Linked DNA regions of Homo sapiens: region 2 is linked to region 1. Evidence: fine-mapped expression QTL. Tissue or cell type: whole blood. Region 1 holds a variant in brackets; the other region holds the start of a gene. All regions are shown on one strand. Distances are between the middles of the regions.

Region 1 (2,760 bases):
GTAACTTTGATAGCAAAATCCAGTGAGGAAATTATAATAAAGGACCTAAGCAAAGTCTACTCTGATTTATATAGACACAAAACTCGTAAACAAAATATTAGCAAATAAAATCTAGTGATACATATATATAAATTATAGCTGGGCATGGTGGCTCAAGTCTGTAATGCCAGCATTTTGGGAGGTCAAAGCAAGAGCCCAGGAGTTCAACACTGCAGTGAACTATGATCAAGTCACTGCACTACAGCCTGAGCAACAGAATGAGACCTGACTCAGAAAACACACACACACACACACACACACACACACACACACACACTAAGGCATGGCATTATGGTCAGGCGAGAATTATTCCAAGAAGACAACACATGTAAAAATCAGTGAGTGCAATTCACCACCTAGGCAAAATAGAGGAGAAAAATCATAGGATCTTCTCAAACAGAGGCAGAAAAATCGTGATAAAATTCAACATCCATCCATGATTTTTTAAAAGGCACCTACAAATGAAGAATAGATGGATACATACAAAATCCTACAGCAAACGACCTGCTTTAATGGGAAAATATTGAATGCTTTCCTCCTGGTAGCAAGTATAAGTCAAGGATGCCATCTGTTGCCACTCTTACTAAAGATGTTTTATTGGATCCTAACAGAATGCAGTGAGGCAAAATAATTAATAAAAGGTATAAATATTGGAAAGAAAGAAATAACACAATCTTTATTTCCAAGGGACATTATTTTATACATATAAAATACAAAGACTCCATAGATAGACTTATAGAATAAATTTGTTAACTATTGTAAAGCCAAAAGTTACATATTAATTTTCAAAAATCAATTGCATTTCACACTTGCAACAAAGAAGCAAATAATACAATTTTTTTAAATAATACCATTTTAATTAGCATCAAAATGAAAAAACTTCAATGCCTAGGAATAAATTTAACAGTAGATAAGCAAGTCTTCAATGTAGAATAATATAAAATATTGAGAGAAATTAACAAAGATCTCAGTGGGTGGAAGACTATGCATTACTTTCACATAAAAAGGTTCAATATTGTGAAGATAGCAGTGCTTCCCCAAAACTACCTATGTTCAATATATTCCTAATAAAAACCCAAATAAATGATTTTGTGAAAATTAACAAGTAAATCCAAAAATTTATATGGCAATGTAAAGCGCCTTAAATGTCCAAGAAAATGGAAGAAAATTAAAATATTTGAAAGACTGAATTACCAGATACCAAGATTTATTTTAAAGCTAAAATTATTAAAACTGCATGGTATTAGCACAATCATAAAGAAATATAGTATAGAGTCCAGCAAATGATCCACACGCATAGATGAACACTTATTTACAAAAACGGTGGCAATGTAAAGCAGTGGGGAAGAAGAAGAGAAGAAAGAGGGAAAGAAAGAAAGACAGGGAGAGAGGGAGGGAGAGAAGGAAGGAAGGAAGGAAGGAAGGAAGGAAGGAAAGAAGGAAGGAAGTCTTTTTAATAAATGATGTTGGGTCGATTAAACATTCAAATCAGGGGGAAAAATGAATCTTGAGTTTCTACCTCACATTATTTGCAAAAAATCA[G/C]TTCCAGATAGATTGTTGACCTAAATGTGAAAAGTGAGACAATAAGGCTTCTAGAAGATAACAAAGATTATCTTCTTTACCTTGGAGTATAGGAAAAATTTTTTAAGAATACAAAACTCACTAATCACTAAAAAGGAGACTGAGTCAAACTACTTTAAAATAAGACTTTATACTCATCAAAGATATCAAGACAGTAAAAAGAGAAACCATGGAATGAAAGCAGATATTTGTAGTTCATATAACTGACCAAAGATTCATATCAAATATGTATAAATGAGAAAAAAGATAGATAATATAATAAAATTAGTACATACAAAATACCTGGATAAGCAATTTGCAAAAGAAGGTTTTCTCATAAGTACAGGCGATGTTACTCATCTAAATTAGTCACTTGGTAAATGATAATTAAAAACAGCCATGGAATACCACTAAATATATACCAAATGGCTAAAATTAAAAAAACCACAATACCAAGTATTGAGGAGGATGTGGAGCAAATAGAATTTGCATACGCTGCTAGTGGTACAGCTAAAGCTTTACTTCTCAAGCTCAACATTCCTTTGTCTCATGATGCAGCAATTTCATTATTAGATATGTACCCAACAGAAAATGCATATGTATATGTGCCAAAAATACTACAAGAATGTTCATAACAGAAAAAAGCACAGTAGTCAAAATCTGGAAATAATCCTTGATGTGGCTTAACAATAAAATGTATTCTTTTTTAAAAAAAATATGGACGCGTAGTTGCTCTTTAACAATGAAAATGAATGAAATAATGTTACATGCAAAAACATAGATGCATTTCACAAACATAGTATTGAGAAAAGAAGCCAAAAACAAAGAATTCACTGTGTGGTTACATTTATATGAAGTTTAAATACAGGGAAAACTGATCTATGATGTTGCAAGCCCTGCCAGTGGTTACCACTGAAGGCATGGGAGGAGTGGGAGCAATTAGGGGAAGAAGGGGTACTTCCCTGCTATCTCTTGATCTGGGTGGCGAGCACTCAAATGTGCTGACATTGTGATAACTCATCTGGTTGCACTCTGTGATTTGTGCATTTTTCTGTGTAAACAATATACTTAAATAATAAAAGTTCATTTTTAAATGTTCCACACTAAAAATTTACTGGTACAGGTGATTTGACACTAATTATTTTCACAGTTCCATTATTA
Region 2 (2,500 bases), 170 kb before region 1:
ATTCATTCTTTCTAACTGCAAATAACATCTTAATGTACTAGTGAAAAATTTCCCCACTGTACATTGGATTATGCAGTGTCATCTTTGCTGGGGAGAGAGAAGCTAATGTCATGGAAGGACTATTGTATGCTAGGCTCTATGCTAAATGCTTATAGCTGCCACACTATCTTATCCTCCCAACAGTCCTGAAGCAAGGTAAGAATGTTAGGAGTTACACGTCGTCTGGTTTTTTTAAAGGTTTTGTTTTCCTGAAATATTAGAAAGTGTTTCCTATATTATCAATTGCAAACAAATGAACATGCCCGTGGATCTTTCTGGGGTCCCTCTTCAGATCTGGCTGCTCTAAGGATATTTAATCTTGAGAACAAGGCCACTAGTGTTTTCTGGGGCACGACATAAACTTCTCAAACTCCCTATTCAGTGGTATCAGGGGCGGTGTAGAACAGGGGTCAGTCAGCGTGCGGGCGATAGTGCACGCTAGCGTACAACAAAGGAAAAGCCACAAACAAGACTGTATTCCAGGAAAGGTGCTGGTTGCTCCGGCAAGCCTTACACAAAACAGGTCCTCCTCTAAGCTAGACTGGGACGTTTAAAGAAAAGGAAGGAACAGGCCCAGAGGATCTAAATCGGCTCCCTCGTTGTGGCCGTTTGAGCGGTGACCTCGGCGAAGTTCCATTCCAGTACCTAGGACCCTGGTAGGGCCCGAGGCTGAGGCTAGCAGGCCTCCTGCTGGGCTTTCTTCTCCAGCTGATTCAGCAAAAGGAAGAAGAGGGATTCCCTGCCTGTCTGGGAAGAAGAAGGGGGGCAATGTTTTGTCCAACCCATCTGCCCGTGAGACTTGAGCGGCGTCTCGAGGCCCCTGCTCCAGACAGCAGCTATACCTGGGCAGTGGGGACAAGACCAGGTGGCGCCTAAAATCCTCCACCTCTTCTGCCCACACAATGAAGGAACAACGAAGTCCTGGTTCCACCATCACAAGACTCTGTTCTTCAGCTGCCTCATCCCCAAACTCCCATCCCCCATCCTCCCATCCCTACGTTCCTCTATCCCCAGATGCGCACCAAGGTGCGCTTTCCCAAGTGCAGATTTGATCATATCTCTCCTCGCCTTTGAATCCTCCTGTGACTGGCCACGCTTTACAGCATAAAATGCATACACCTCAAATCGGAGCAGAAGGCTCTCTGCCAGCACCAGCCTTTTCTTTCTTTTTAACTTTGTCTTCATCTACCCTGGTTTGGTTCTTCTTGTTCTTCTTGTTCTTCTTCTTCTTCTTCTTCTTCTTCTTCTTCTTCTTCTTCTTCTTCTTCTTCTTCTTCTTCTTCTTGTTCTTCTTCTTCTTCTTCTTCTTCTTCTTCTTCTTCTTCCTTCTTCTTCTTCTTCTTCTTCTTCTTCTTCTTCTTCTTCTTCTTCTCTTCTTCTTCTTCTTCTTCTTCTTTCTTCTCTCTTCCTCTTCCTCTTCTTCTTCGTCTTCCTTCTTCTTTTCTTCTTCTTTTCTTCTTCTTCTTCTTTTCTTCTTCTTTTCTTCTTCTTCTTTCTTCTTCTTCCTTCTTCTTTTTCTTCTTCTTCTTTCTCTTCTTCTTCCTCTTCCTCTTCCTCTTCTTCCTCTCCCTCTTCCTCCTCCTCCTCCTCTTCCTCCTCTTCCTCCTCCTCCTCCTCCTCTTCTTCCTCCTCTTCCTCTTCTTCTTCTTCCTCTTCTTCTTCCTCTTCCTCTTCTTCCTCTTCCTCTTCCTCTTCTTTCTTCTTCTTCCTCTTCTTTCTTCTTCTTCTTCCTCTTCTTCTTCTTCTCCTTCTTTCTTCTTCTTCTTCCTCTTCCTCTTCTTCTCCTCCTCCTTCTCCTTCTCCTTCCTCTTCTCCTTCCTCTTCTCCTTCCACTTCTCCTTCCTCTTCTCCTTCCCCTTCCCCTCCTTCTCCTCCTCCTCCTCCGTCTCCTCCGTCTCCTCCATCTCCTTCATCTCCTTCTTCTTCTTCTTCTTCTCCTTCTCCTTCTCCTTCCTCTTCTCCTTCCTCTTCCCCTCCTTCTCCTCCTCCTCCGTCTCCTCCATCTCCTTCTCCTTCTCCTTCTTCTTTCTCCTTCTTCTTCTTCTTTCTTCTTCTTCTTTCTTCTTCTTCCTCTTCCTCTTCCTCTTCTTCTCCTCCTCCTCCTTCTCCTTCCTCTTCTCCTTCCACTTCTCCTTCCTCTTCTCCTTCCTCTTCTCCTTCCTCTTCCCCTCCTTCTCCTCCTCCTCCTCTGTCTCCTCTGTCTCCTCCGTCTCCTCCGTGTCCTTCGTCTCCTTCGTCTTCTTCTTCTTCTCCTTCTCCTTCCTCTTCTCCTTCCTCTTCTCCTTCCTCTTCCCCTCCTTCTCCTCCTCCTCCTCCGTCTCCTCCGTCTCCTCCGTCTCCTCCGTCTCCTTCTTCTTCTTCTTCTTCTTCTTCTTCTTCTTCTTCCTCTTCTTCTTCCTCTTCTTCTTCTTCCTCTTCTTTTTCTTTCTTTCTCTTTCGTTCTTTTTCTCTTTACTTTCCT

The links. PIP is the estimated chance that this variant, and not a neighbour inherited with it, causes the effect.
Region 2: it holds the start of NME8, and the variant in region 1 is fine-mapped to the expression of NME8 in whole blood (TOPMed, PIP above 0.99).

Annotation. Positions count from the first base shown.
Region 1 is chr7:37,675,752-37,678,511 of GRCh38, reverse strand. No RefSeq gene overlaps it. Among named protein-coding and RNA genes, the nearest start is that of GPR141, 6.6 kb to the left of the region's middle. The variant G/C (reference allele first, on the strand shown) is at 1,582.
Region 2 is chr7:37,847,110-37,849,609 of GRCh38, reverse strand. NME8 (NME/NM23 family member 8) reads right to left here and starts at 1,013. Exons shown (of 18, transcript NM_016616.5): 1 at 882-1,013; 2 at 554-786.